Regions from separate parts of the Homo sapiens genome. Here all the other regions are linked to region 2. Evidence: fine-mapped expression QTL. A gene starts in region 2. Each other region holds a variant in brackets. All regions are shown on one strand. Distances are from middle to middle.

Region 1 (10,997 bases), 40 kb after region 2:
ATTTCTTCTGTCCCAGGGATGGGGGTTGGGAGAAGCTTTGGGATTGCTGTGGAAGGAAGAAGGTGCAAGTCTCAGACACTCTGGAAGGGTCGGGGTAAGTACAAGGATATTAGCAAGTTTAGCCTGGTGACTTCTAGATCCTCTGCCTGGAATGAGATCTTTGCATAGGCGAACTGGAGGACTCTAGGCTGTCAAGGCCAGTCACAAGCCACAGGTGCCTATTTTATAGCACGTACTTCCCTGCTTTCCCCAGGTGCCCATCATCCAGCAGATTTGTCTATAGATCATGGTATTATCTCCATTGCTTCTGAATCATTGAGTGTTTTTCCTGAGTCAGGATGCATTTATGAGGGCCACTTAATTTCTTTACTGTCAGTCACTTAATCATTTTTATTATTTATTACTAAACCTTTGCCTGAGTTTTTCTTCACTTCCTGGGTTTGTTTTTGTTTGTTTGTTTTTGAGACGGAGTCTCGCTCTGTCCCCCAGGCTGGAGTGCAATGGCGTGATCTTGGCTCACTGCAACATCCACCTCCCGGGTTCAAGCGATTCTCCTGCCTTGCCCACCGAGTAGCTGGGATTACAGGCGCACGCCACCATGCCCAGCTAATTTTTGTACTTTTAGTAGAGACTGGGTTTCACCACGTTGGCCAGGCTGGTCTCAAACTCCTGACCTCAAGTGATCTGCCTGCCTCGGCCTCCCAAAGTTCTGGGATTACAGGTGTGTGCCACAGCTCCTGGCCAAAATAGTTTTTCTTAACTACATTTATTCTGATTAATTATCTATATTTTTTCTGCCATCGGCCTTATTGAAAAAAAAATACTTTTTTAGAGGCATATAATGCCAACATATTTTCCTTTTTGGAATTCTTTTTGCTCTATTAAAGAGGTTTTTAATAAATTAATTTCATCAGGCAGTTTTAATTCTGTTTACTATTCATAAGCATGGGAACTGATTAATATTCGGGGTTTCCCTTTTTCTATCCAAGTCCCTTTCTAACCATTAGGTCATGACAGTTTGCCAAGCAAAAAATCAAAAGGGCTACTGCAAAACACATTACTACTGAGATTTGCCTGAAATGTTTGAATAGTGTTAAATGGTGCCATGGACACTGCAGATACCACTGCTTTTCTTATGATTCTTAATTTTAGGATTAAGACATCATGCGACTCATCTATTGCCAGGAACTTTAGTTATTAGGTTCCCATAAACCCAGAGAATCCTATTTCTCTTCTTGGTGATATATAAAACAGAACTTTAGGTGCCCACAAAACCATGGCTTCTTCACTCACTTTTCCCCTACAAAATGAGTTCAAAAGAAAGGCGAATGCAAAGTATATATTCTGCCAGGCATTATGCCATTTATTTTATATATGAAGTCTCACATAATCCTCACAATAATCTCATTGTGCATATTTGACAAATGAGAAAATTGAGGCTTGGAGTAGTTAGTAACTTAACCAAAATCACACAACTGGCAAGTTGGCAGGGTGAGATCCAAACATAGACCTGCCTAACTTCAAGGTCTGGGCTATTCTACTAGATACAGCACTCAGAAAAAGACAAGGGTTCCTTATGTCAGCTGGGCAAGAAGTGATCAGTAAATATTTTATCCAGGTGCCCATAAAAATTAGAGGCCAATGCAAAGGAAGGAATTACAAATTATAAACAAGATCAATAGAAATTAGGGAGATACAGATTTCACAGGTCATGGCAGAAACTAGGTGAGCTCTGGGGGTGGGAGGTGGCGTTTGTAACAGGCTAGGGAGGAGCATGTGGGCAGAGAATGAGGTCCTGTCAGGACATAGTCAGAGAACTGTCTGTTCATCCCATCCTGCTGCCTTTAAATGGGTGTGGCCTGCCTGTGCAACACCTTCCAAAGAAGTGTATGAACATCTCCCAGGTATCAGTTTCTGTGAGATTAATCCTGCTACCCTACTCAATCTTGCTACCCCAGATCTCCCTCCTCTCACTCTGTCCACCTTGACCAGTACTGAGCCCCTTTGTCCTGATGACCCATTTGGACACACTTCTCTGGTTTAGACTGGCTCTCGATTTTGGCCACAGTTGTAGAATTTGCCTTCCACTCTATAGCCTCCAGGCCTGCAAAGAGATAGCCCTGCTTCTGGGTCTGCCTTCCATTTGCCTAAAGGAGTCAGGCCAATCTCCCCGCATGGAAAAGGGGTCTGACCCAGGTCTGACCAGGTATATGAGAGTCAGGTCAGAAGTCAGGCAAATAAGTGAGAGCTGGAAAAGCCATGTTATCAAAGCAAGAAATTAAGCGAATGAACAGTCAGGAATGACCATGGAACCCCCAGTACTGTGAGTGACCCAAGGAAAAGTTTTTGAGGAATTATATGGACTTTGGAACCCTGTAACTTGACTGTTAAAGATGAACAGGAATTAGTTTTCACAAATTGGTTTTAATAAAACTTATTTTCATACATCTTGGCTGATTTGCTTTGTGGTGGGAGGAGTTAATGTCAGTGTACTAAGTTGTCCATAGAGAGATTTTCTGAGGTTGCTGGTGGAAGTTTAAAGCAAATAAAAGAAAATGTACCCAAACCCTGTCTGTGTGAGCATCTCTGACACAAGACATATGGAGTGAGCTGTGTTGTATGTAACTGGCCAGTTACGTACATGGCACCTATAAGTCCTGGAGAGCCATACAGCCAGGGGATGAAGCCAGGCAAAATGACTCTAGCTTTGGTCCAAAATTTGATCCCAACTCTCTTTTGGTCTCCTGCTCCGCTGAGCTGTGCTGGAAATCATAGAAACTACAGAAGTCTCCTTTATCTTTCTGCTCTAATAGGAGAGCCAGGCCCAAGCTTTTCCCTCTAGGTCTCCCCTTTGCTGGACCTCACCCCTGTCATCAGCCCCTTCCCTGACCGTCATCTGACTCCCAGGCCTTCCAAGGGCAAAGGAGCCATGGCAACCTGCAGGCCATCTCGCCACACAGCTGCCTACGGTGTCAAGAGAGAGCAGTGTGAGGCTACCCAAAAGGGAGCTGAGAGCCAGAGGGTGAGTCCCTTTGCTTCTCCCATAAACAGATGTCTAAATGACATGGAGATGCCCAACAAGTCTAGTGGGATGGGAACTCGTGGAATTCCTAAGTACCCCTAGACACTCCCCAGAGACTTCTAGAAACACTGCTGTGGAGTTGGGAGGGAGAACACTGTAGTGGGGTAGTCATGAATAGGTGGGGATCATCGCCTCACAAAATGTGTATAAAAATGCTCATTTGTACTTACAGGCTAGAGGCCTGTGGATATTCAGATTTCATGAAAGAAATGGAAGATATTTGCGGGCTTTTCTCAACTTTTCTTTTTAGAGAGAATTTTGCTCTGTCACCCAGGCTGGAGTGCAGTGGCGCCATCATAGCTCACTGCAGCCTTGAACTCCTGGGCTCAAGTCATCCTCCCATCTTGGCCTCCTGAGTAGCTAGGACCACAGTGTGAACCACCACACTCGGCGATTTTTTGTGTGTGTGTGGTAAAGATGAGGTCTTGCTATGTTGCCTAGCCTAGTCTTGAACTCCTGGCCTCAAGTGATCCTCCTGTCTGGGCCTCCCAAAGTGCTGAGATTACAGGCATAAGCCTGGCCCTTCCTCAACTTTTCGAATTGAGTTCATGTAAAGGAGGGACAGAGGAACTTTGTTAATTTCATCAGCCCTACGGAGTAATACCACTAGTCACAATTATAAAAAGTGAAAACCCCACTTATTTCCACCTCATGTGGCAATATTCCAAAGAATCTTGAAATCGCGCTGATCCATTTCAACTTGACCCAATTCTCTATGCATATGATATGACATTCTCCACTTTCATACCCAGAAGTAAGAGTTTTTCTAGTTTAAAATAATAAAGATAGAGAGATTTACGAATGGTTAGGTTTCTAAGTTCTAGGTAGCAATTTCCTCTTCTAGAAAAATAAGTTCTAGTGGTATTTACCTGTGTTTCTTAAAGGGTTGTACTTTTTTAAATGGGATTAATATATTAAGGGTGTTCATATATAGTACTAATATGAATACATTAGACCTGTGCTTCTTAGGAATTTCACAGAAATTTCACAATCATTAAGGTCACTTTTCTATTTCTCCCTCTTCATTTTCCTTCATTCTCCATCACCTCTCTTGCCCTTAAATGATTATAACTTAGAATTGGATTTTTTGAATTAATTTTGCTTCTGTTAAGTAGAATTTCCTGTTCCCTACTTTTAATTTTTAAAGTTAAAGACTAAATTAAGTTGCCTTTTGCTTCTTAGGCTTTTTACTGTAACTTCTTTGTTGCTCTTGAACTTCGATAGTTAAAGTGTTCAGAAACCAAGCTTTCCCAGAAACCAAGCTTTCCCAAGCTCTTCATGCAGCCTCCCTGCCCCCACCCTCTCAGTGTTGTTTTCCCTTTCTCAAGGGGAAGACTGTCCTAGGAGGGGCTGCGGGGCAGAGACAGACTGCAGGAGGAAGAGGAAAGGGGAGAAGGGATAGCATTCCACTTTGTTTGTATCCACCTCACAACCTGCTGTTGACCTGCCTACATGATTAGTCTCAGGCTGCAGTTTGGCCCAAGACAATATTTGATAAAGAACCTTCTAAGTAGAGAAGAAAGTACTTGATTTAACTTGGAGGCAAATATTCTATTTAAGAAAATAGATGGAATTTATATGCACTTAAAAATGCTGTGACATTTTTGGGAATTGCTGGGCTCAAATAGCTTTCTGGAGTTAGGAAACCAAAAAACCTGCCAGATGACATTTTTGCTCAAGGAAG[C/G]GAGGAGGTATAGAAGAGAAGAATTTGGATTCTCAGCTGAATGTCTGGCTTAGCTGTTAAGCCTCTCTGGCTGAGAATGTGCTTTCTCGCTTCTGTTTTTGGTGTAGTGCCAAGAGAACTATCAGACCACAAATAATCATTGTTAACTTCAGTGGAAACCAGAGCTATTAAGAAAAATATTAAAAGCCTGTTCCAGGATTATAACATTTTAGAGAGCAAAGAAATAAGATACCTGACTAACCTGTTTTATTGGGTTGTAAATGGAAAATGTCCTGACCAGCTGGGTTTTAAGCAAGAATGACATTTTTTCCATATGATTTGTCATGGATTTTAAAAAGACGATGTGCTTAGAAAAACAAATTTGCTGTAACTTGGCTAGTGGGCAAAATAACCGGCAGAAAGCTTGATAACTCAAATTCATGATACAGCAGAAATAATTTTGTTATTTGGCCAGGATGGCCCAGTCCTGATATGCTTAAGCTTCAGAGAGTTGCCTATGTTGTCTTTGCAGAAAACAATCCACATTTGTGCAGGATGCAAACTGAATTCCTTTGAACTTCACTGTAAAATCCACATTTCTCAAAATGTATTTTAGAAGATTTTGCTAAACGATTGGCAAAAGCTACAGATACCAAAAAGTTATTTTCATTGGAATTTACAACTAAATATCCTGAGTAACAGATAAGCATGGGTGAAGGTCTTACTAAGACCATAAATAGGTGAGGTGTTGAATGTTAATTAGCTTGATGTAACCATTTCACAATGTATACATATATTGAAGCATTACATGGTACAACATAAATATATATATAACTTTTATTTGTCAACTCCTTAAATTTTTTTTTAAAGGGGAGATGTATGGAGGGGCTTCCTCCAACAGTTGGGGAACAACTTCACACATTTTCCTTCTTCCATTTTTGTTTCCCAATTAGAATATTTAAAATCTTACCCTTGGCTGGGTGTGGTGGCTCATGCTTGTAATCCCAGCATTTTGGGAGGCCAAGGTGGGAGGATTTCTTGAGCCCAGGCGTTCGAGACCAGCCTCAGCAACATAGTGGGACCCCCATCTCTATTATTAAAGATAAATAAATAAAATAAAATTGTAACCCAATGCAGGCCAAGAAGTGACACTTTGAATTGTAAATTTGGTTGACTATGTTTGGTTGAGTTTGACTGAGTTTGGTTGACTTCTGTTTGCCACTTCAGCTCCATTTTCCATTCTTTGTTCCACACTTCCACCTGGAGGTTGGTCTGAACACACCACACTGTAGCTTCCAAGTCCTCTGGCTTCTGGTTGGGGTTGACCAGTGGGGATTTGGGGCACTGGACTGATGAAAGGGAGGAAAATGAGTCAGGAAGAATTTTTACTCCTTGGCTTCTTCCCTGTGAGTCCCTTGACCAAGGATTACAGCTTCTATCCAGGTGACCTTCTCCATGTGACTACCTCCTTCTGGCGTCTGGTGACTGCTCCCTCCCCTCGTCACTGGGGCCGAGGGTTATCCTTTGTGGTTCCCCTATACCCTGCCCACGTCTCTATAAGCAACCCTTTGTAAATAAATCCAATTAGAATGATTCTAAGTTAAGTGTGTCATCTGATTCCTGCTAGTCTTATAATTCTGCAAGTCTTATCACCGTCCTCTAAGGATATTCTAAGATACTCATGGGATAAGAAGCCAGGGACTGACCACACTCTCAATGGAATCTAATACAATGTCCCAGCCCGTTGCTGAACCCCATCTGCCAGTGCTTATTGTGCAGTGCCCAATCTCAGAGCCTTGCCCTCACCCCTGCTCCACCAGCCTGCCAATCACCATGTCCCCCACCTCCCTCTATTCCCATTCCCACCTCTGTGACCCAAAGCACCATGGTCTCCCAATATCTACTTCAGAAGCCTGCCCACTCGCCCTCTGTGCCCCCTCTTAAAAACATCCCATATTACAAAGTGCTCTTTCTATACTGTGAATCTCGTCTTGTCATGTAGACATTGCTTAATAAATAAATGTTAAGTGAGGGAACAAGTGATGTTCCTTTTAGGCTTAAAATCTCTCCATGGCTTCCTACTGCACTTAGGCTAAAGCCCAATAGTGTGACCAGGCTTGTAAGGCTTGCAAGACCCTGGAAGATCCACCTCCTGCTGCCTCATCTCACACAACTTCCCCTCTTGCTCTCTGCTCCACGCACACTGGCCTCCTTTTAGTTCCTGGAGTGAGCTGGGCTTTCTCTGGCCTCAAAGCTTCTCACCAGTATCCCTTGTGCTAGAAATTTTCTACTCATCTCCTTTTCACTCATCCTTTAGGTCCCAGCTTAAATGTCATTTGCTCAGAGAAACCTTAGCTAACTCCCCTCCCATCCCCCAGACAAGACCAAGTTGCCCTATTCATCCCTTTTGCAACATATATCCCAATCACGATTAACTATGTGAATTGTCACTTAACGTCTGACAAGTCTAATATGTCTCTCTACTGCTTGCCTGGATGGCTGAAATACCTTCCTAACCAGTTTCCAGGTTTCCACTCTTGCTACCTCCCCGTGTTCGGTTTTCCACATGGCTGCCAGAATGAGCTTTTAAAAACATAAATAAGCCGGGTCTGGTGGCTCATGCCTGTAATCCCAGCATTTTGGGAGGCTGAGGCAGGAGGATCGCTTGAGGCTGGGAGCTCGACACCAGCGTGGGCAACATAGCAAAACCCCATCCCTACAAAATAAATATCTAAAAAATTAGCCAGGCATGGTGGCAGGCACCTGTAGTCCCAGCTACTCAGGAGGCTGAGGCAGGAGGATCGCTTGAGCCCAAGAGTTTGAGATTGCAATGAGCTATGATTGTGACACTGCACTCCAGCCTGGCTCACAGAGTGAGACCCTGTCTCTAATAAATAAATAAATAAATAAATAAATACGTACAATTTTAGTTTTTTTTTTTTGTGATGGAGTCTCGCTCTGTCACCCAGCCTGGAGTGCAGTGGGGTGATCTCAGCTCACTGCAACCTCCATCTCCCGGGTTCAAGCGATTCTCCTGCCTGAGCCTCCTGAGTAGCTGGGACTACAGGTTCATGCTACCATGCCCAGCTAATTTTTATATTTTGAGTAGAGACAGGGTTTCACCTCGTTGGCCATGATGGTCTTGATCTCTTGACCTCGTGATCCACTCATCTTGGCCTCCTAAAGTGCTGGGATTACAGGCGTGAGCCACCATGCCCAGCCCTAAATTTAAAAAATAAAAATAAAAACAGAAATGGATCATGTCACCTCCTGGCTCAAGACCCTCTGAGAGCTTTCCATACACAGAGTAAAACCCCAGCCCTGCGCCCTGGCCTGCTGCACCTGCTGCGCCTGCTGATCTGCTGCTTGACTCCCTCTCAGTCCTCATCCCAGAGTGCTAGACCTCACACATTCTGGCTTCTTCTGTTCCTCCAACTTCTGCCCCTCACCGTCATACCTACCATCTTCCTCCTATTTCTCTTTTAAAGTTTTGTCTCTGAAATTTCTAATGTGGTGAATAGTTTATGATGTGCTCATGGATACCATGTGCATTTACTTTTCCAATGCCCTATGTCCTATTCTCTTGTTAACTGCACTCCCCTTCTTTAGCTGATCCTCTCCTATGCCAATTCATTTTTTTAAAATCGAGGTATAATTTACACATAAAAGCTGTACATAGTTAATATATACACCTTGAAGAGTCTGAAGATAAGTATACAACTGTTTAAGAGTCACTATAGACAATGCCATAAACATCACCATCACCCCTAAGATTCCTCCTCACTCTCTCTTTTTGCACCCTTTGGCTGACACCTCCGCATTTATATTTCCCCTTTACCCAGCTCCTGGGAAGCACCATTCTGCTCTATGCTTCTGTGAGTTTGACTGTTTTGGATTCCTGACGTAAGTGAGTCTCACTCCAATCTTCATACTGCCTCCCACTCCCCCAGTGGGCATGTGACCCAAGCCTGATCAGTCTAGGCTCCCATTCCCCGGTGCTTTTCTTCTCTTCCATCAGAGAAGACATTGAAACCCTCGTACTTTATTATGCATATTCTTAGAGACTGTCACCCTGAGAGAAAGTAGACAAACCCTTAAATTAAGCAATACATAAGTAAGGTGTTCCTAAATGCTTCAAATTAATGTATTTATTCAACATTTATTGAGCACTTTCACGCTACCTACCTATTGTTCTCAGAACTGGGGAAGCTTATGGCAATGAACAAAGCAGACAAAAATCCCTACCCTGAACACTTCTACAGCTGTCAATATCAGCCATGTGATTACTAAAATTCTGAGTGCTGAAAGGGGGTGCAGAGCACTTACTGTATCCATCAAAGACTTTGTGATCAAACAAGTTTTACCACAGATTTTGCAGATTCTGAGACTAATCTACTCAACAAAGCATATTAAAAATGCAAGCTATTAATAGAAAGAGACATTAAAATTCTATTTTTTCAAAGAGCTCAATCACTCTGCTGGTTAGAGATAATATGTAATCAGTTCTGAATCTAAAATGACTCTGGAAAGTCAAGAGAAGCCACAAGGTCATGCTCACATCTTTCCTCTCCAGAGAGTTTCAGAACATCAGCACTGTATTAAAAATAAAATGGTTTAAAAAAAAGGAGAGAGAAATAGAGAGAAATTCTAGAACTAGGAACTGAAAGTGCAAGAATATGAGTTTGGTATTGCAGAGAAAAAAAGGTTAAGCTTTTCGATCAGTTTAATACAGTAAAAGCCTTCTTAGCAGTGATTTATTTCTATTTTTGTGATTGATTTTATTTTTATATTATTTTATTTAGTGAGGAATAATTAAGAAAATAAGTAAGCGAATAAAGAAAAAAAATCTGTTATATTCCTACCACTCAAAATTAACTGCTGTTAATATTTTGGCATATTTGCTTCCAAGTCCTTTTTGATGTTCCTACTATTTTTAAAAACATTGCTATTTTTAAAAACATTTGATGTTCCTACTATTTTTAAAAACATTCTGTCTCACTGTCTCTCTCCATCTTTTTGTCTCTGTCTCTGTCTCTCTCTCTCTCTGCCTATGTATGTACATATTTGTGCACACATATACTTCTTTAAAAAATATTGGAACATTAAGTTAATGCTAAAGTATCTTTTGAATGTTATCCCTCTTGGTTCCCAGAAGTAATCATTATTTTAATTTTTTTTTTTTTTTTGATACAGGGTCTCACTCTCTTACCCAGGCTGGAGTGTAGAGGCACAATCATGGCTCATTGCAGCCTCCACCTCCTGAGCTCAAGTGATCCTCCTGCCTCAGCCTCCCAAGTAGCTGGGACTACAGATGTGCACCATCATGCCCAGTGAATTTATTTATTTATTTATTGAGACTGAGTCTTACTCTGGCGCTCAGGCTGGAGTGCAGTGGCACAATCTCGGCTCACTGCAACCTCCACCTCCCAGGTTCAAGCGATTCTCTGCCTCAGCCTCCCAAGTAGATGGGACTACAGGCGTGTGCCACCACGCCTGGCTAATTTTTGTATTTTCAGTAGAGACAGGGTTTTACCATGTCGGCCAAGCTGGTCTCAGGCTCCTGACCTCAAGTGATCCACCTACCTTGACTTCCAAAGTGCTGGGATTATAGGCGTGAGACACCACACCCAGCCCCCAGTGAATTTATTATTTTAAACTCGATAAGTATCATTCTATTCCTTTTGCTATATTTTTATATACATATGCAAATAAAAGGGATCTTTTGCTACTTGCCTAATGCCAATCTGGGATCACGGTGGGGTGGTTGTAGGATCTGCATGCCCAGATGGACATCTGAATTATAGTTTAGGCTAAGCTGAGAGCCTCACCAAAAAGTACATGCATACAACCATTTTTCTGGAAGCAAATTGTTCCTATCCCATAAGATAAAATTAAATGCATTATTATGTCACAAAGAGCATCACGATTTCCCAGTATTTTATCCTGAATAAGTATGAAGACCACTGCTCTTCCAGAGGGGTTGAGAAAAATATTAAGTGAGAAACCCATAGATATTAGGTAATGATCAATGTGTTAAAAATGGAATCAGGCCGGGTGCGGTGGCTCACACCTGTAATCCCAGCACTTTGGGAGGCCGAGGTGGGTGGATCACGAGGTCAGGAGTTCGAGACCAGCCTGACCAACATGGTGAAACCCTGTCTCTACTAAAAATACAAAAATTAGCCAGGCATGGTGGCGCGTGCCTGTAATACCAGCTACTCAGGAGGCTGAGGCAGGAGAATCACTTGGACC
Region 2 (10,997 bases):
GTTAATTCCTATAATTCCAGCACTTTGGGAGGCCAAGGCAGGAGGATCACTTGAGCCCAAGAATTCAAGACCAGCCTGGGCAATGCAGTGGGACCACTGTCTCTTAAAAAAATATTTAAATTAGCTGGACTTGGTGGGATGTGCCTGTAGCTACTCAGGAGGCTGAAGCAGTAGGATCACTTGAGTATGGGAGGTAGAGGCTGCAGTGAGCCATGATTGTGTCACTGAACTCCAGCCTGGGTGACAGAGGGAGATCCTGTATCAAGAAGAGAAAAGAAAAGAAGAAAAGGGGAAAAAAAAGAAAAGAAAAGGAGGGAGGCTATTCATGTGTCAGGACAAGGGGTATATGGGAAATCTCTCTGCATTCCTCTCAATTTTGCTGTGAACTTAAAATGGCTCTAAAAACTTTTAAATCTTTAACTTAAAAAAAAAATCTGAGGCACTGAGAAGACTACAGTGAAGAAACACTTTTACTGTATGGTCCAGTTTGAAAGAAATGTGGTAAGGATGCAATCTGCCTGAGAATTCACCATTTCTTTGAGCTTCTAACAAAGGTTCAAAAGCAACTAATGGTAATATCAAGTGGCTCTCTGTACACATACCAGTCTCAGAAAGCTAATCATAGTTCTGGAGATTAAATTTCAGGCAAAGGCAAAAGCTAATCTCTGAACAGCAGGTCTAATAAAGTTAATGAGAACTATACAAACTACAGATCTTCTCCCTCTATTGTCTTTGGAGGATAGAGAACAACCATAGGCTCTAATTATCCTTAGATTTAAAATAATCCTGGAGACTGAAAATGGGCAAAAAGCCCATTTTTACTACAGTATTTGGCAACATTACTACTATTACCAATTAATCTGTATCAGTAACCCTGTCTGGCACTAAATCTCACAAAATATCCACATTAACTCATAAGGAACCAAACCATCCACAGCAGTCATGTTTGAAAAATTGTACTAATACGAGCCAAAGTGCCAGGTATCAGAAATGTTAAACAAGTGCAAACACCCTAGCTAGAACATGCCATCTACCCATTCACTCATAACAACCCTACTGAACACATACTGAAATTGCTAGGGCAGTCATTTTCAAGAGGATACTTCTAAAACTTTAAGCCCCTTACAAGCAAAACGGCTTGAAAACCTTCAAAGGACCCAAGTACATGGGACTTCAAATTCCATTAGAACTGCACCAACTTTTCATATGCAACAGAACACATAGGCAGAATGATTGGAATGGAAAATGTGTATAATCTAAGTACAGAGAATTATGCTGAATTGTCTTGACTTTCATTCTTTCAGGACTTAACGATGGTGAGAAGGAAGAAGGTATTTTAAACCAAAACCAACAAATTATAGGGTTGCTGTGTTATCAGCTTCACTCAGACTATGAGTAAACCCTAAACAAAGTAGATCTTAGTTTGTAGAAAACACACTGCTAAAAAAAGACAAATGCAGGTGTCATTCTGGGTTATCACACCCAAGCAGGCCACAAGTAGTATGCACCATAATGGCACGTGGAAGAAAATACTGCCTAAAAATGGTTTAAGCAGTTAATACATCCACAGTTTCTGATCTCAGAGGCAGGATTCTACTCTGTTCAATGTGCTGCATCATTTAGCCAGTCCAGGAAGTGTTATTTCCCAAGTAATGTTTCAACAAAATATCTGGAAAACATGGAACTGTAAATTAGCTTGCTTGCTCTGGGCAAGATGCCTTGCCATGAGAAGCTTGTTGCTCAGGTAAACGTCTGTTGGCCCTTCCAGGCAGGTCACAAGTCCTTCTAGCCCACAGAGAGGCTGCACAGACTAACAGTGTGCCTGCCCAGCTCCCCTGGAAGAAGTGCTCCCTGCACCAAAAAGCTGACCTTGGTGGAATCTGCAGCAAAAGGCAGAGAGAAGAAGGACGACTTTCATGAGATAAACTCGGTTCATTTATTTTTCAACTGTTTTATGGAGATATACTAATAATTCACATATCCTACAATTTATTCATTTAAAGCATAACGTTCAGTAGGTTTTAGTATATTCACATACTTGGGCAACCATCACCACTATCAATTTTAGAACATTTCTGTCCCCCTCAAGAACACTTCATATCCATCAGTAGTTACTCCCCATTTCCCCCCAGGCAACCACTAATCTATCTTTTTGTCTTTATAGATTTGCCCATTCTGGACATCTCATATGAATGAAATAATACGTGATCTTTTGTGACTAGTTTCATATATTTAATGTTTTTAAGGTTCATCCATGTTACAGTGTGTATCAGAACTTCATTTCACTTTATTGCTGAATAATATTCTGTTGTATGCATATACCACACAAGTTCTTTTCTTCACAGGCAGTAGAATCTCTTCTGCTATATAAGCAAAGCTATAAACAGTGAATAGGTGCCTGCATTAGCTCATGAATGTCTATTATGGCTGAAAATATATCATTAATTGTGTAATGCCACAGTTTTCCAAAAGCGTTACCAAATGCCACAGTGATATCTGGATTAATAAAAATACTGAGAATGAAGTTCCTTTACAAGTAAGCTGACTGCTTAAAAGTTTTCTCCTGTACACTGCAGAAAAAAGGGAACTCACAGCTCCTAAGGCCTGAACACCTCAGGACATAACTGGTCTTTGACCCCATCCAGTTAAAGACAAACAGCATAACTGCAAGTATACAAAGCTGGTCTCTGCAACCTTTCTCTCCTCTTCCTGGCCCTCCATCTCTTCCCTCTATCTGTGAAATAAATCCAACTTCTTCCTGTACTCTTACCCTTCCCCTCCCCCCAAACAGAACAAGATCTCTTATACCTGCTGAATAGTTATACCCTCACTCTAAATTAAAATAATACATTCATTCACAGGAAAAGTTACTTAAACCAGACATCTGTATTCTAAGACATTCTTTCAAAACATGAAATCAAACTAGTTTCCCTCATAAGAATTTGTGGCATGAATGAGCTGATAAGAGGAGGGTTTTTTGTTTTGCTTTTTGCAGAGAGACCCATCCAAATCACAGTAAACTCACTCCATGGCAAATCAAATTTAGTTAGTAATCTCAGGTTGATGCATATCTAGAAAGGGGTGGGAAAAATAAATTGTTATTAACTTTGTTAGGCATGATAATGGTATTATGATTATGTCTGAAAATATCTTTATCTATTAGAAATGTATATTGAGGTACTGAGATGAAATGATGTGATGCCTGAGGTTTACTTTAAAATACTTTGGTTCAGCCAGGCTTGATGGCTCATGCCTGTAATCCCATCACTTTGGGAGGTCAAGGCAGGAGGACTGCTTGAGCCCAGGAGTTTGAGACTAGCCTGGGCAACACGGCGAAACTCCGTGTCTACAAAAATTAAAAAAATTAGCTGGGCATGGTGGTGTGCGCCTGTAGTCCCAGCTTCTCAGGAGGCTGAGGTGAAAGGATTACCTGAGCCTGGAAAGTCCAGGCTGCAGTGAGCCCAGATGGCACCACTGCACTCCAGCCTGGGCAACAGAAGGAGACCCGTCTCTAAATAAATAAATAAATGAATAAATAAATAAATAAGTTTGGTTGGAAGAGGGAGTGGGGGAGGTGAAATGAAATAAAATACTGATGAGGGTGGCTGATGGGCATATGACAGTTCATTATTGTTTTCTGTTTTCTGAAGGTATACAAATTTCCACAGTAAAACACTTTTTTTTTTTTTTTTTTTTTGAGACGGAGTCGCACTCTGTCGCCCAGGCTGGAATGCAGTGGCACGATCACGGCTCACCACAAGCTCTGCCTCCCAAGTTCACGCCATTCTCCTGCCTCAGCCTCCCGAGTAGCTGGGACTACAGGCGCCCGCCACCACGCCCGGCTAATATTTTGTATTTTTAGTAGAGACGGGGTTTCACCGTGTTAGCCAGGATGGTCTCGATCTCCTGACCTCGTGATCCGCCCGCCTCGGCCTCCCAAAGTGCATGAGCCACTGCGCCTGGCCGTTTTTTTGTTTTTGTTTTTGTTTTTAAGAGGCAAGGTCTCACTCTGTTGCCCAGGCTGGAGTGCAGTGGCGTGATCTCAGCTCACTGCAATCTCCGCTCCGGGGCTCAAGCCATACTCCCACTTCAGCCTCCCGGAGTAGCTGGGACCACAGGCACCCAACCAACTTTTTTTTTTTTTTTTTTTTTTTTGTATTTTTAGTAGAGGCGGGGTTTCACAATGTTGCCCAGGCTGGTCTCAAACTCCAGAGCTCAAGGAATCAGCCCGCCTCGGCCTCCCAAGTGCCGGGATTACACGTGTGAGCCATCGCGCCTGGCCGGTAAGCTTTTTTTTAAACTCACATAAAAGATTACACAGAGGTACCTGGCCTGGGTTGAATTCTAGAAGGGGTTGTGACAGTGTTACTCAAGTGCACAATTACTATTGGTGGTGCTTGCTACAAAGACTCAGTTTTATTCGTACACGCTTAATATCATGGGTTGTCAAATCATGCTTCCAATTTGCAATACGTCACTCATTTCAGGGTAATGACTTACACATACAATTTTCAAACAAAAATGTAAGATTTACTTGCCTCATGATGGTTACCTTCTCAACTTTTTTCATAATTTATAAAAGCACCAGCTGACCCCAAATCATCTACCTCTTGGCCTTTTAATGTAAGCGGTAAAGGAATACTGTCCTCTGAATGCAGCGTTGGCTAACACTGCTGACCCACGCAAGGCATTGATTTGTAGTTGTTTTTCCATCGGAGTGATGGATTTGCGCTCAGCTACTCGCGGTGTCTACTAGGTCCCCCTGGTGACCAAACAGTACACTTAGGCAGTAGTAGGGTTCCAAGGCACAGACTGGCAGCGGAACAGAGGGTGGAACGGGAAATCATGAAAAATTAACACGCGAACCGTACACACGACATGACTGAGAATTACGTTTGCATTACTAGGGTATTTGGGATCCACAGACCAGCCACTAGCCCCTTTCCTTTAAAAAGCAAACACCCATCCGCCTGGTTCAGGCTTATCGGTCTCCACCTCCCATTTAAATCTTGGGTGTGATGGAACGACCCAACCAAGGGGCTCGGCACGAGGCACACGCTGCTTTTTGGAGCCTGGGGAAACACTGGTGTGACAAATTGTCATAATTTTCTAAGACACGGAGGAATGCTACACCACCTTTCCTACCACCGACTTAAGACCCAAGACACTGAGTCAAGGGCAACCGACCTGCGGGGGCCCACGGGGGAGGGGGGAAAGCCCCGAAAACACCAGGGAGAAGGCGGCCCGTCGAGCTCCGCCTGGAGCGGCGCAGGGCTGCGGGCAATGCCCGGAGCGCGGGGTCGTACCCAGGTCACGTCTCGGGGCTCTCAGGATGCGAGGGCGTACCCGGGCGGGACGACTCGGGCCCTGGAGCCCGGCTGGCCGCGGCGCGGGAGCCGCGAGGGCCGCGGTGGGGGGCGTCGGCAGAGCCGCTGAGGGGGCTGGGGAGGGCGCGCCGCCAGGTGCCGGACGGCAGGGGGCAGCGGGGTTCGGGCGGGCACAGACCCAGGGAGGGAGGAGGGGAGCGGGCGAGTCCTGCGCGGCGCGGCAGGGCACACGGCCGGGTGCTCCCGCAGCTGGTGGCTGGGCGGCCGCCGGCCTACCTGGAGGTAATAGGGTTTCCTTAGCCAGGCCCCCGGACAGAGACTCCTCGCCATGGTAATCACACATCGCCCCGCCGCGCTGCAGTCAGAGGCGGACCCGAGCGCTGGCGGCCGGGCTCCCCGCCTCCCCCCGCCTCCCCGCCCCCTGCCCGGCCGGGCCCGCCCACTCCCCCGCCCCCGCCGCGGCGCGCGCCGCGCTCCCCTCGGCCCGGCTGCAGTGAAGGCGGCGAGAGGCCAGAGGCCCAGCCTCCTGCCCTGTTCGCCCGCCGGCCGCCGCGGCTGTCAGAGAGGCTGCTGCCGACTCCGCCATAAAGGGGAGTCGCACCTCGCCTCCGCCGACACAAATCGACTGCGCCTGGAGCTTAAAGGGGAGGCGCGCGGAGGCGGGAGGGGGCGCCGCGGCAGCGGGGGTGTCGCACGCTCGGCGCGGATTGGGGCGTGCTTCTCGCTGGCTGATGCGGCGACCCCCGGACCGCGCTGGCCTCGCAGTCTGCTCCGGCTTCCGGCTCCCCGCGCTGCGCCCAGCTGCGCGTCCCGCCACCCGCCCCGGCAGCACCGACGCTCCCCATGGACTCTTCTCCTGGAGTCAGGACGTGTCTGGACGGGTTGTTTGGAAATTCAAGGGAAGCTTGGGGCTCCTTCCCTGGGGACTGGCTCGTCCTCCCTCGCCCTTGGTGGCGGTCGGGGGAAGGGGGTGTCTGCCGCAGCTGGAGACGCAGACCGGGGCATCCCCCCAGGACTGGGCTCAGCTTCGAACGCGGACAGGGCGCCCCACTGCTGAACTCGGTGCCCCCCTTACCACGCTCCAGTTCGCCTCTAACGGCCTACAACTTTTTTTAAAAATGTACTTTTAAAAAATTCCGACTTTTTTGGTTTATATTGTTTTTAAGACAGCTTCAGAGTTTTCCTGGCCCCGTCCAGGAACACTGATTTCAAAAGAAAACAAAAACAAAAACACCGAATTAAATACAGTCCTGAAGGCAGGGAGCCTGGGACGTGGCCTGCTGCTTGGTTAAGGCTACATAACACAGGGTGTGGTGTCTTTCTTTTGACAATGAGTTCCAAATAAGGGAAAAAAGAGCCACCCTAGTGGGAGAACAGCTGTTGATCCAAGTGACTTGTAATGGAAGAAGCAGCTTTTTTTTTTTTTTTTTTTTTTTTGGCTGCTTTTTACCCCACCTACCACGTTTAAGCGTGATGCTAACAAAGTTTAGGTGGCCCGTTAGAGCTCATTCCGGCCTGTTGCTCTGAGAAGGGGTTTCCCCAGAAGCAAACCATTACTCATTCTCACTTGGTTTTTGCATAAGCCTTGTTCAGGTGCCTTGTTCTGAAGAGATACCTTCATGTCTGCCCCTTCCCTCAACCCACACACAGACACAGGTTTTAAACCTAGGTGATTTTTGTTGTGGTGGTTGTTCTTTCTGTTTTTGAGAGGGGTCTTACCATGTTGCCTAGGCTGGACTCAAACTCCTGGGCTGAAGCCATCCTCCCATGTAGCTGGAACTACAGCTACTTGGTCTTATTTTATTGCTTGCAGATAAACCAATTTTTCATTGATTTTGTTTGGGTCAAGAGACAGTAATTTCTGAGTAAGATAAGGATGAATCCTAGTGGTTTCATTCATTCATTTAATAAAGATTTATGAGTACCCAGGCACCATTCAAGTTGTTTCGGTTACATAAACAAAACAGACAAAAATCCTTGCGCTTGTGGATGTGAGAGAGAGGGGCAATAAATAATAAATGTAATCAATAAAATCAAATTGGATAAGAATGCTAATAAAGGTTATGGGGAAAACACCAAGGGAGATGGGGAAGACTACAAATAGAGGAAGTTTGAGGCAAAAGAGGAGTTCAGTTTTGGAGAAGTTCCATTTTAAGGTATCTATTAGAAATTGAAGTGGAGATCTTGATTAGGCAGTTGTATGTATGAATGAGTCTAGGATTAAGGAGCGTGGTCCAAGCTAGAGGTATATGAGAGATATCAGCATTTAGATGGCGTTTAAAGCCATGAGACTGCCTAAGATCACCAAGGAAGTGAGTGTAAATAAAAGACGACTGAGGATGGAGCTCTGGGGACCAATGCAGCTTTAAGACAGGGTAGTGGGTGAGCCAGCCAAGGAGACTGAAAGGGAGCAGCCAGTGAAGTGGGAGACCCGAGTGAGGTGCCCTGAAGCCGAGTGAAGCTTGTGGATCTAGGAAGAGGGAGTGCTCCTCTGCGAGTGAGCACTGAGAATTGACTGTTGGATTTAGTGACATGGAGGCCATTGATAACCCTTCAGTGGAGCAATAGAGGAAAAACTTGATTGGAGTGGTTTTAAGAAAAAAATGAGAGGAGAGAAACTGGAGGTGGCTAATACAAACAATTCTTTTGAGAAGTTCTCTTACAAAGGGGAGCCCAAATCTGGGACAGTAGAAGCAGAGTCAAAAGAAGATTGAAAAAAAATGGGGAGAGGCCAAGCACAGGAGGTCAAGGCTGTAGTGAGCTATGATCGCATCAGTGCACTCCATCCTGGGTGACAGAGTGAGACCCTGTTTCTTTAAAAAAAAAAAAAAAGAGAGAAAGAAGGTGGTAGGGGGAGAAATACTTGTTTTTAATGGGAATGATCCGGAAGAAAAGGGAAAATTCATGTAGAAACAAGAAGTGAGAAGTGCTGGAGTGGTGTCCTTGAGAGGGAAAAAGCGTTTGAAAACTAACACACAAGTGGAAGGATCATTTGTAGACGAGTACAGACTGTTGATCTATGGAAACAGGCAGGCAGGTGGGTAGGCATGGTAAATAGGAATCTTTGGAAGTTCTCTTCTGATTGCTTCAATTTTCTTAGAGATGTAGAAAGAAATGCTATCAGCTGGGAGGAGATGGGAAAGATTATGTGAAAAGGGAAGAGAAGGTGTGAAATGTCATCTAGGAGAATGAGAAGACAATGGACCAGAGAATAATTGTGTGCTTGTTGAGTGTCATGTAGGGCCCACTTCAGTTTATGGTCATGAATTTAAGTGAGACAAGTTAGTATGAGTGTGCTTCTTTCTCCAGCAATAATTAGCTCCTAGGAAGCAGGTCCAGAGTAGGCTGAAATTCTGTTTAATCACATTTTACTAAAGGAACAAGAGCAAGGAGAGGAGAACAAGGAAGTTGAGGATATAAGCAAGGGCATGATTATGATTCACCATGGAACTTAAGATGATTAAGGAGGGAAGAGTGGATATGGAGAGTTTAAGGACAGTGAAAAGGTGGTAGGATCAATGAATTGCAAGTCCTTCTGGGGTTGAGGGGTTGTAGGAGTCTAGGGAAAAGAGAGAATGATCTGGAAAGATAGGAGGTATGTAATAGTCTGAGGCTGGGCATAGTGTCACATGTCTGTAAACCCAGTACTTTGGGAGGCTGGGACGGGAGGATCATTTGAGGCTAGGAGCGCAAGACCAGCCTGAGCAACATAGTGAGATCCCATTCCTATAGAAAATTTAAAAATTAGCCAAGCATGGCTAAAAACCCCAAAAAACTGTCACAAAACTCTTTAGTGTGATGTGCACCTGTAGTCCCAGCTACTCCGGAGGCTGAAGCAGGAGGATCCCTTGAGACCAGGAGGTGGAGGTTGCAACAAGCCATGATCGTTCCATATATTCCAACCTGGGCAACAGAGTGAGACACTGTCTCTAAATATATATCTATATTGCAAGTCTGACTCCATTTTTTATATGTGCTGACAGCTTTGAAGCCCTGCCACTCCTGTTTCCTCTGTGCAAACATAAGAAAGCCTAGATGCCTTTGATGCCAGCAGGAAGTTCAAACCGTGCAAGACCCAGCCCATGTGAGAGAGCCCTCACCGTGGTCCTACCCCTTAACCACCATGACATCCTAAGATAGTCTCCTTTCTTTGCTCCCTTAAGCCATTTTTGAACCAGTTTGGGAGCCTGCCCTGCTCTCCCCAGAAAGCTGCAGTATGTGAATAAACCTTTTCACACCCTCTTGGTGCAAGTGTAACATCATCAGTCTCAACGTCCAAATTAAATTTTAGGTGGAGGAGCCCATCTGGCTTCTGCAGGGTGACCACAACAATGTGGTAATTTTAGTGGGATCCATGAAATTGAGACTATGGAGGAGTGATTAAACCTAGGGTGGGATGCCACCATGGCAGTGAATGGCTAAGGGATGTGGAGGCAGGATCATTGGAAGAGAGTCAAGGACAGACTGTCATACAGATTATATGCATGCGTATTAAAAACAGTAAGACTTAGGACAGGAGGTGCTGGGGAAGATGTCAGTAGCAAAAGCTAAAGTCCTTGATAAGACAGTGATCTGTGAGTGAGTAGGTGAGGAATGAGGAAGGTGAGTGACAACATCAGAGGACATGAGTTTTAAGATAATGGGCAGGGGCAGGAATTAGAGAGGAAGCAGGAAGAATATCTTAAAAGAAGCATGGAAGAGCCCTCTCCTACCTCCCACTTCAGTGGTATGAGGGCGCTGGGAAGGCTGCAGGGACAACAGCATCCACAGGGATGAGCCAGGTTGGTGTTAGGACAAGAAGGTGCAGGAGATATTTAGAGAAGCGTTGGAGGACATAGAGGATTTTGCTGATGATAGACAGAGGGCACAGTGGAAAAGCCTCAAAAACTGGGGAGTCTTGAGAAGAGTTCAGAATAGGTGATGTGAAGAGCCTTGAGAGGGTCAGGTGAGAAGTGAGGGAGGCATGGTGGTCTGGTGTTTCTCACGGTAAAAGATATAAACAAGGATACCAAGGACAAAATTTGAACCAAATGAGAAGAAATGGTTATTCGGGTTTCCTTTTAGAGTCACCCAAGACTAAATGAAATTAATGTTTTATTTGAATGGAGAAAAGTAGTTTAGAAGATTTTCATTTCCAACTTGAGTTGCTTCCCTTGTCTTCACATGCCCCAGGACCCTTGCCCTCCAGGGCCCATCCTGAGGACCTTGCATACAGGTGGGTACGGTGAGCCCTTGTACCACTGAACTTGCAGTTTGGCTATAAATCCACTTGGATGAGTCCCAAGATGGATCCAAGCACGTTGGCCTTGGCAAATTTAGGCAAGATCCTTTCTGCCTCTGGTCTGATGTTCTCCTGAACTCTCACTGCAGAGGCCTGGCCAGCCTTTATGTCATATACTGGACCTACTTTACAAACATCCAAATGTACTTGTGCTGGTGCCTGTTCTTATGGCACTTAAAAATTTAAGTTTTTCTAAGTAAAAGCTAGCTAATCCAAAACTAATTCATATGGTTATGTTCAGAGGTGCTAATTTGTGGCCTCTTAGTCATCATATGTAATGTAACTTTGGCCTTCCAGAGACAAAGAAATTACTCCAGTGGGTTCCAGTACAGGAAAATCAAGATCGGTGGTCTTTGAACTTTCTTGTTTGCACATTCTCAAAAGAATTT
Region 3 (10,997 bases), 26 kb before region 2:
AAAACATAACCACCCTTGAACCAAGCACTGTGGCCAGTAGAATGCTATGAGCTGACTGGCTTAGGCTTGGGTCACTGGTCATCTTCTCCCTCTAGCCTTATTCCTTGTTTCTGACTCCCTGAAGGCCTACAACCCCACTTACAGGTCCTTGTTGCTTTTGTAAGCCAGGGGAGTGATGCTGTTGAATACTCTTCCTCAAAAGCATGGCCTTTTGTGGCTCCCAATTTTAAACACACAGGTCAATTGCAATTCTCTGACTCTCAGAAGCCTAAAGTCTTTTCTCCTCACCTCATATAGCCCTTAAAACTATGGTTCCCACTCCCCATTGGCCATTTTGGCTTTAGCTCTCTTTCATATCTGAGTTTGAGTTTTCTTGTCATTTCTGGTATCTGGAGATTTCCTTTGCTTGCTTTCAAACTTAATTAGGTAGTAATAAAAAAAAACTGAGAAAGGGAGCTTATATTTTATCCAGCATTTCTATGTATTTGCAGAAGACAAAAAGAGGAATCTTCTCATATTAACTAAATCCACCATCAGTAACTCTCCTTAGCCTTCAGGATATAGAACCAATTCTAATTCATTTAACACAGAGGGCCCTTCAAGGTATTATTTACCCTCTTAGTTTCATGACCTGAATACCCCCAAACGCAATCTTTTCTTTTGCGAAGGAAAGAACTTTTTGTAGTTCTCTGTTCATGCCATGCTGTTTCTTCTTTCTATGCCTTTTCTGATACTGTTTACTCTATACAGAATATTATCTCAAGGTGCCCATGCCCTCACACACAAATTTTGATCTAGTCAACTGATACTCATTCTAAAAGTCTCCAATAAACATGGCTTCTTAAAAGCCTTTTCTGTCTCTCCCTCCCCTATACCAACTAAGACTAAGATGGTCCCTTCCTGGGGTCCTGTAACACTCTATACACACTTCTGAAATACAAATATCACTCCAATTGTTGACTTACTTTTCCCACTAGACTACACTCCTTGAAAGAAATATGTCTTATGTAATTGATTACTTCTAGTACTTCATTCTTTGCTTGGCACATATTAGATATTTGACAAATGTTTGTTGAATGAATGGAGAGACAGATTCTTTTTTCTTATTTTTTTAAATTAATAGATTTATTATTTAGAGCATTTTTTTTTGGTTTACAGAAAAACTGAACAGAAAGTACAAAGTTCTCATATAATTGGCAAAACCTGGAAGTAACCAAGATGTCCTTCAGTAGGTGGATGATACATAAACTGCGGTACATCAGACAATGGACAATTATTTAGCAATAAAAAGAAATGAGCTGGCCCCTCACCCCATGTGCAGACCCCATCATTGGAAGGCCTGGTGCCCACACCGTATCAAAGAAAAAAGGACTGAGTGCAGAAGAAAAGAGAGCCTGCATGATGGAAACATTTTTTAAAACAAAAGATGTATTTCAATTAAAAGACATGGAGAAGGCCAGGTGCGGTGGCTCATGCTTGCAATAGTAGCACTTTGGGAGGTTGATGCAGGAGGACTGCTTGAGGCCAGGAGTTCAAGATCAATCTGGCCAACATAGCGAGATGCCATCTCTTGAAAAAAAAAAAAAAAAAGACATGGAGAGGACTGCTCCCAAAGAGAAAGGCATTACTGCTGTGTTAGTAAAAGAAAAAAGTCCTTCAAAGTTTAGTTGATAATGATATGGTTGACTGTGAGAGAACTGGAACTTCTAATTATTATCAGTCTTTTCCAAGTAAAATTCTTCATGCAAGAACGTATAAATTGGAGGTTCTGAAATCTCAGTTGTTTCAGGGAAGCCAAAAGCATGCAAACTTACAGAAAAGCATCAGAAAAACTAAAATTGGCCAACATGAGATGAAGGAGTGAACCGTGTTAGCCAAAGAGCATTCTTCACTCTTGGATCAAAGGCAGAAGTTGAAAAATGCAAATAATGTGACCCGCAAGTTGTTGAAGAAATACATCAGGCAAATAAAGTACTTGCTAACAGATAGACTGATAACATATTTGCAATAAAATCTTGGGCCAAAAGAAAATTTGGGTTTGAAGAAAATAAAATTGATAAAACTTTCGGAATTCCAGAAGACTCTGACTACATAGATTAAAATATACCAGGGTGGTAAAGAATCTACGAGCTCGCAAATATGTAAATTTTTAAATATTATCCAACTAGGCTGGGCACAGTGGCTCATGCCTGTAATCCCAGCACTTTGGGAGGCCGAGGCGGGCAGATAACTTGAGGTCAGGAGTTCGAGACCAGTCTGACCAACGTGGTGAAACCCCATCTCTACCAAACATACAAAAATTAGCCAGGTGTGGTGGCACATGCCTGTAGTCCTAGCTACTCGGGAGGCTGAGGTAGGATAATCACTTAAACCTGCGAGGCAGAGGTTGCAGTGAGCTGAGATCACGCCACTGCACTCCAGCCTGGGCAACACAGCGAGACTCTGTCTCAAAAAAAAAAATTAAAAATTTTAAAAATCTTATCCAACTAAATGTACTGAACTGTCTTTTACCTGTAACAGTGTTTATCATTTTATTAAAGTATAAAATGTAAAAAAGAGAAAGAAATGAACCATCAAGCCATGAAAAGATGTAGAGAAATCTTAAATGTGTATTCCTTTTGTAGTCATTTTAAGATTTTAGAAAATTATTTGTCAGACATACCCTACCTGATTAAATGTGTATTCCTAAGTGAAAGAAGCCAATCTGAAAAGGCTACATACATACTGTGGAATTCCAACTACATAATATTCTAGAAAAGACAATGGTAAAAACATCTGTGGTTGCTAAGGGTTGGAGGGATGAACAGGTGGAGCACCGAGGATTTTTAGGGCAGTGAAACTACTCTGATTGATAACATAATGGTGAACACATGCCATTATACACTTGTCAAAACCCAAAGAATGTACATCAAGAGTAAACCCTAATGTAAACTAAGGGCTTCAGGAGATAATGATGTGTCAGTGTAGGTTTGTCAATTGTAACATATGTACCACTCTGGTGAGGGATGTTGATAGTGGAGGAGGCTGTACATGTGTGGGGCAGAGGGGTATATGACAATGCTCTGCTTAATTTTGCCGCAAATTTTAAATTGCTCTAAAAATTAAAGTATATTTTTTAAAATATGAAAGAGCTAAACATACATCTCAAGAAGAAGAAAAGGAACAGAAAAACAAACAAAAACCCCCAAAACCCAAGAAGTAGAAGGAAAGAAATAATAAAGATAGAAACTAATGAAACAGAACATAACTTAAAATAAAAATCAACAGAACTAAAACTTTGTTCCTTTGAAAAGTTCTAAGAAGAAACTGAAAAGGTGAATAGTTTCTATACCTAAAAACTACAGAAGGAAGAAGTATCAGGGAGGCAGGCATGGTCAATAGTATATAATGCCATAACAAAGTAAAGTAAAATTCATATTGAAAACTGCCCAGTGGGGTGGTTCCCATCTATAATCTCAACACTTTGGGAGGCCAAGGCAGGAAGACTGCTTGAGGCCAGGAGTTTGAGACCAGCCTGGGCAATATAGCAAGACCCTGTTTCTTAAAAAAAGGAAAAGAAAACTGCCCAATCTAACAATGAGGACATCACTGATATCTTGGGCAAGAATAATTTAAGTGGAATGGAATGAAGTAGAACAAGTTTCTAAAAGGAAAAAAAAATCCCGGATGTGTTGACATTAATGCTGACCTATATCTGCAAGAAGCTAGATTTGATTTATCTTTATCTTTGCACAGTGCCTCACATATCGCTGCTTGCAACACTATTTGCTGAATTAATTCAGTTGGATGGAAAAGAAAGGACCACACATAAAGGGCTTTAAATGCTTGACAGTATTGAGACTTAAATGAAGAAGTTTTAAGATTTCTAAACAGATATACAGTCTGATGTTTAAAGAAGATTAATCTGGATGTTAGCTTAAGACTTTTAAAGGTAATACTGAGGAAAGGGAGACTAGTTAGGAAGTTGTTGCAGCAATCTAGGCCCTTCTGGATTAGGATAGGCCAACAGCAGTGAAGATAAAGGGTGAAATTTGAGAGACATTATGAAAGTAAACTTCTTAGGATTTGTCAACAAATGGATATGAAAGTTAGAAGAAAAAGATGTTAAAGGTATGAAAGACTGAAAAACTTTAGATAATAAAAAATGAAGGTCAGTGGTAACACACACTGGCATTTTAACTAAATGCAACCTCAACTTGATCTATTTCTATGGTTTAAGAAATTCAGGTATTTAATTTTCAGCATACAACTTTTGGTCACAAAATAAATTTTCTTGAACAAATGAATGTTAAATCTAGATGTAAACTGAGATCTTTATAAATGAATTTAAAAAGTGGAGAATTTATTCAAATTCAAATACTTTTATATTTATTTCCAGAAGGCAAGATAATGGGACAGTTTTGAAATATCTAGTAGAATATGCCAATTTTCCATAAAAGTTTTTTTTTCTTAACAGTTTAAATCTAGGAGACTAGTTTAAAATCAAAAAGTTATGCATGAGAAAAGCTAAAATGACAAATCTGGATATGTATATCAGAAGTTTTCTATTTGTGGAAACACACATACTTGCATAGTTCAAATGTATTTCCTGAGTCAGCATATACTGGAAGGTTTCTCACCTTCCTCTTTTCATCTTATTTTGGCTCACCTTCTCCCTCAAAACATCTTGAAACATAGATACTATGGAAACAAATGAAAATGATCTATCTCTGAAAGCATTCAGAATCAAATAGCTCAGCATTCCTCTTCTTTTTCACTAAACTGTGCTCTGCACCACAAAATTAAACAGACATCCCTAGG[G/A]ATACAGATTTGCCAAGAGAGTTCCTGGCAAAAATAAAACCTGGCCCTTCTCCAGACTGCTATACATGGACAACAATGGAAGTTCTACAGATGGAGATTGATTGCTGGCTGGCTGGCGGGCCTGTGGTTACTTACTAGCGTCAAGATGAAGAATATTAGGCACAGATCATTTTCATGTCCAAAGACTTCTGACAACAAATGTGCTCTGCCTGACTTCTCACATTCAGCAACAGTGAGAGTTATTTACTGAAGAGATAGTTCTAATTCTAGCTCTATTCCTTTATGTATCAGACAAGCAAACTGAAGCCCAGCGAAGGTGGGTCATTTGCTCAGAATCATACAGCTAGTTGGTGACAGGACAAAACACAGGTCTTGAGATTCCCAGTTCAATATTTCCACCTCTCTATTGAGCAACACTACTGTCTAAATAATACTAAAAAGAACGTGTTGCTCACATCTTAAACTCTTTTAATCTAAGTCATTTCATAACTTGACATTCCCGTTCAGTGTTTTGCTAGAAATTGCAATATACTTTTATTTTGTGAGATACTATATATTAATATAACAGTTTTTTAAAGAACTATGTATTTTAAGTCCCAGAGTCACCAAAATAAAATGAGATTAGAAATGGTTTTAAAACTATTAAAACACAATTAATAAATTCTGAATCTTTAAACTTGGGGAGATTCTTTAAAAATTACGGCTCAATATATTTAAAAGCAGAGAGGGGTACTGGAATCAAGGTCACAAGACCAGGATTTAAGTGCTATCCCTGCTACTGACTAGCTGCGTGACCTGAACATGTTTCGTCCTTATCTATAAAATCAACAGGGTCAATCAGGGTCACTGAAATTAGTTTTATCATTTAAAATACAGTTCCAGACAACTCAAGGATAAGATCTTTATGTTATCCTTATTATATTATAACGTGTTCAAGTAACTGAGCAAAAAAAAAAAATCCCTCACTATTCTATAACTAACTAACTAAAGACATTAAAACACAGGAAATGGCTGGGCATGGTGGCTCATGTCTGTAATCCCAGCACTTTGGAAGGCTGAGGCGGGAGGATCAGGAGTTCACGACCAGCCTGGGTAACAAAGCGAGACCCTGTCTCTACAAAAAATAGGAAGATAAAAATTAGCCAGGCTGGAACATCTACTCTGGTGGCTGGAACAGCTACTCAGGTGTCTGAGGTGGGATGATCGATCACCTGGGCCCAAGAGTTCAAGGCTGCAATGAGCTATGATCACGCCACTGCATTCCAGCCTGGGCGACAGAGAGAGACTTCATCTCAAAAAGAAAAACAAAAGAACAACAATAAGAACAACAAAAAAACCTCACAGGAAACATCATCTCTACTATAAAAAAGCTGTAGATTTGGCTCTGCATAGAGTCAGCAAGAAAAACAATGTCAGAAAAATGCAGTACAGAGTTGAAGTTATGGAAATCTGGATCACATCTTTCTGCATTCATTTAACTAAATAGGCAGCTTTGAAAACCTAAGTATAGTTTTTCTGAAGGGAAAACAGAAGAACATAAAAGAAGCTCAGAGAAACTGGGCATGGTGGCTCACGCCTGTAATCCCAACACTTTGGGAGGCCGAGGCAGGCAGATCACCCGAGGTCGGGAGTTTGAGACCAGCCTGACCAACATGGAGAAACCCCCAACTCTACTAAAAATACAAAAATTAGCCAGGCATGGTGGTGCATGCCTATAATCCCAGGTACTCAGGAGGCTGAGGCAGAAGAATTGCTTGAACCCGGGACGCTGAGGTTGCGATGGGCCGAGATCACACCACTGCACTCCAGCCTGGGCAACAAGAGCGAAACTCCGTCTCAAAAAAAAAAAAAAGAAAAGAAAAAGAAGAAAGAAAGAAGCTCAGAGAAGCTGTTTTAGTCCAGTTCTGCCAGACCCTCCATAGCAAGTACCACGCAGCACTATCAGACATCAAGACCCTTTATCTATTGCTTTATTGAGTGCTGTTATACATGGTCCTGGATGATGAAGTTTGATCCTGTTTAATACACAGGTCATTTAGATCTTTGGTGAAAACTGTAAATCAACTGTAAAAACAACTTTTACTTTTGCTTTTCTACTACTTGAGACAACTGTGAATTCACAAAGATATAGATACCCTTACATGCAATTCACTGTTCATTCACTCTATGGAAATCCAAAAAGCATAAACATAGTCCCTGTACCCACTAGCTACCAAGAGTTTACAATTGAATAGGATCATGAGTTTTACTATGTAATAAATTCTTACCAGTTTTATGTCCAATTTAATTGCACTTAAGTCCTTTGTCTCTTAACAGATGTAAAACAGAAAAATTAATTTGTAAGGTACTAGAAAAAAGGATTAAGGAATCATAAAGAGCTAATCCAAGGCTGGGCATGGTGGCTCATATCTGTAATCCCAGCACTTTGGGAGGCTGAAGCGGGCAGATTACCTGAGGTCAGGAGTTTGAGACCAGCCTGGCCAACATGAAGCCCTGTCTCTACTAAAAAATATTAAAAAAAAATAGCCGGGCATGGTGACTTCTTCCTAGCACATTAACTGGTGACTAACCTATCATAAATACCTTGCAAGTATTACTTCACAGATACTGCATGATATACTTCTATCTAACTTTTGCAGATGTGACTTTCAATTTGTGGGGATCACAACAGAAATCCCCACATGCTTTATTTTTTACAGACTAAATGGTGATCCGGAAAGAAAAAGAGGCTCTGACACATCTTTCAGCCTCCTTTTGGGCTAGGATTGGAATTCATTCTAGTGGTGAATGAACCAACTATTGCCAAAGTTGCTTTTTTGGACAATGCTGCTTTTTAAAAAATCTCAGTACCAGGTCATTTGAATATCTAATTGGAAAAAATACATGTATCTTTAACTGTAATTATACCATATACAAAAATCAATTCCTAACTGACTGCAGATCTAGCATGCTGGTAAAATGGTGTTCCTTGAGCATAAATGTACATTTCAATATTCATGTTATACTTTAATGAAAAGTTAAGGACTACTTTTTCTTGCTACTTAAGGTTCTGGCCTTTCACATAAAAAGCCAGCACCCCGATCTTGGATAAATACCAAAGTATACTGTAAAGGCTAGTAATGAAACTGGTTTTAAGCTAACTACAGATTAACCTTTACCCCAGGTCACAGCTTCACAGAATTAGGAACCTAATAATAGTCTGGCAGAACAAATTTGTTCTTTTCTGATTTAAAAAATTAAAAAGGCATTAGAAATGAACGATTTTCAAGTAAAAATGTAACTGCAGCCTGGGCAACGTGGTGAAACCTTGTCTCTACAATACATACAAAAATTAGCCAGGCATGGTGGTGCACACCTGTAGTCCCAGCTACTCAGGAGGCTGAGCCAGAAGAATTAGCCAGGCATGGTGGTGCACACCTGTAGTCCCAGCTACTCAGGAGGCTGAGCCAGAAGAATTAGCCAGGCATGGTGGTGCACACCTGTAATCCCAGCTACTTGGGAGGCTGAGCCAGGAGAATTAGCCAGCCATGGTGGTGCATACTTGTAGTCCCAGCTAGTCTGGAGGCTGAGGTGAGGCTGAGGTGGGAGGATCACCTAAGCCCAGGGAGGTCAAAGCTGCAATGAGCTGTGATCACACCACTGCACTCCAGCCTGGGCAACAGAGCGAGACCTTTACTAAAAAAAAAAAAAAAAAAAAAGTTGATTCCTCTAAGGCAACTCATAAACATATACCAAAGACAGACAATTAATCTGAAAGGAGAAACTAGCCATTTCACTAATTTGACTTCAAAAAATTCTAAAAATAGCAAGAGTCCAACATAGAAAGCCATAATGTATTTTTGGAAAGTCATTCAAAAATGTATAATTTTTGGATATATCATTTTATGAGCAGGCTAAAGAATTCCTCTTTCAATAATGAATTAATTCTCCCAGAATTGTTATTAGGGAGGTAAGAAAAAACTGTCCTATCAATCATCACCTCACTGGTAAATGAAAAAAATAAGGGTCAGAAGGACAAAGGAGCTTGACACAAGTCAAATCATATACTTGAAATCTCATGCTAAAGCATATTATTCACCTTAAAGTTGGATAATGTCAGAATTCTTTCTACTTTTATCATTTATTTTTTAGACGGAGTCCTGCTCTGTCACCCAGGCTGGAGGCAGTGGTGTGATCTCGGCTCACTGCAACCTCTGCATCTCGGATTTAAGTGATTCTCCTGCCTCAGCCTCACAAGTAGCTGGGATTACAGGCGCCCGCCACCACGCCTGGCTAATTTTTCGTATTTTTAGCAGAGACGGGGCTTCACCATGTTGGACAGACTGGTCTCGAACTCCTGACCTCAGGTGATCTGCCCACCTCGGCCTCTCAAAGTGCTGGGATTACAGGTGTGAGTCACCACGCCTGGCCTTCCATTTTTCTTTAAATTCAAAATTACTTCAATAAAAATACTTGCTACATAAGACATTTATAACCAAATACTATCATTTTGTACACTGAATTTCTATCACCTTTGGGGAGGGAAGTCTACATAACCGAATGACTTTTACATTCACTGGGTAGATCTAGCTATAGGCCATTTTTGCATTAGTCTAATTTAATAGGATATATTTTAGGTTAATTAATCTTCAGGGATACAAATTTCTTAATAGAGCAGTCAGCAGTATTTTTAAAAATTAACCAAAACATTCCTAAATCATGTGAAGTAATACATTAGCAAGACTAAAATACCTCACTTCTGCTTCTATTTGTAGACTTCAAAGCTTAACCCTCTGCTTCCCCACCTTCCCATATGCCCCCTTCCACCCAATGATACCCCTTTCCTCCCACATTCTTCTCTGTCAACTAAAAAATGATCATAGAAAATTTACATTTATCAGGGCTGGAAGCAGTAGCTCATGCTTGTAATCCCAGCACTTTGGGAGGCCAAGGCAGGAAGATCACTTGAGGTCAGGAATTTAAGACCAGCCTGGCCAACATAGTGAAACCCTGTTTCTAACAAAAAACACAAAAATTAGCCAGTGGTGGCCCATGCCTGTAATCCCAGCTACTGAGGAGGCTGAGGCAGGAGAATCACTTGAACCCGGGAGGAAGAGGTTGCCGTGAGTTGAGATCACGCCACTGCACTCCAGCCTAGGCGACAGAGTGAGACCCTGTCTCAAAAAAAAAACAACTATATTTATCAAATGACTGAAATTCATTTATACTATAACTAATCCTTTAAGTACCTGTATATTAAGCTGGCTAATGGTGAAATGGAAGGCTTAATCCCCCATTTAAGAAGACTGGGACAGCATCATCAAGCATATATAGAGATTTTCCATACATGGGGAGCTAGAAATAGGAAATCTGAAATCATGCATTACCTAAAGGTAAACCTGATGTAGTCCTTTCAGGGTGATTTCTGGGAGTAGAGATGAGTGTCCGACATCACTCTGCCCTACCCAACACAGACTGCTAAAAACACAACTCTCCCCTGACTTGCCTTTCCTTTTTCTCTCTTGCCTGTTTAGAACATGGCTATTGAACACATCTGTCCGAGCACATCCCTTGACCTTGATTTAAAAATAGGCATTTAAAGCCAATAACATCATCTTAACATAGTACAACACTTCTTTTTCTTACTCTTACTAGTGCCATATTTTATGTGATTATCATTTAATTAAGGGACTTTTGGTACTACAATTCTACCCCTTAACAGACAAATGCCAAGTTCCTTAATATTTCAACTACCTCTGATATTTAAGATTCTGATTTCTTAAAAGGCATTCTTTTGGAATGTAGCCCTTTCAGCAATGGAGGTATTATGGTTTTAAACTCTAGCATTTTTGTTTGTGGATCCCACAAATAATTTGAAAACTATATACCCCCTTGCATATTTTTAAGTTGACATCTACAATTTTTCACCATAAGTTTAAATAGTTGCAAACTGCTTTCCATGGCTGTATCATTTTACATCAATGTATGAATCATCCAGTTGCTCTGCGTCCTTGCCAGCATTTGGTGTTTTCACTATTTTTAATTTTAGTCATTCTGATGATATCTCATCACGGTTTTAATGTGCAATTCCCTAATGGTTAATAAGCTTGAATGTCTTCATCTGTGTTTACTTGCCATCTATATAGCTTTGGTAAAATGTCTATGCGTGTCTTTTTCCCACTTTCTAACTGGACTATTTTTTAAAACTGAGTTTTGAG

The links. PIP is the estimated chance that this variant, and not a neighbour inherited with it, causes the effect.
Region 1: its variant is fine-mapped to the expression of DIPK1A in thyroid (GTEx, PIP 0.98).
Region 3: its variant is fine-mapped to the expression of DIPK1A in aorta (GTEx, PIP above 0.99). The same link has a PIP of 0.9 or more in coronary artery, fibroblasts, tibial artery and tibial nerve.

Annotation. Positions count from the first base shown.
Region 1 is chr1:92,996,079-93,007,075 of GRCh38, forward strand. No RefSeq gene overlaps it. Among named protein-coding and RNA genes, the nearest start is that of DIPK1A, 40 kb to the left of the region's middle. RefSeq lists an enhancer at 4,274-4,568. The variant C/G (reference allele first, on the strand shown) is at 4,767.
Region 2 is chr1:92,955,773-92,966,769 of GRCh38, forward strand. DIPK1A (divergent protein kinase domain 1A) reads right to left here and starts at 5,690. Exons shown (of 5, transcript NM_001006605.5): 1 at 5,604-5,690. The coding sequence starts at 5,657. RefSeq lists an enhancer at 1,270-1,369 and silencers at 5,251-5,810, 5,971-6,050.
Region 3 is chr1:92,929,992-92,940,988 of GRCh38, forward strand. All of the region lies in intron 1 of DIPK1A (divergent protein kinase domain 1A), which reads right to left. It also overlaps the pseudogene MND1P1. Among named protein-coding and RNA genes, the nearest start is that of DIPK1A, 26 kb to the right of the region's middle. The variant G/A (reference allele first, on the strand shown) is at 4,801.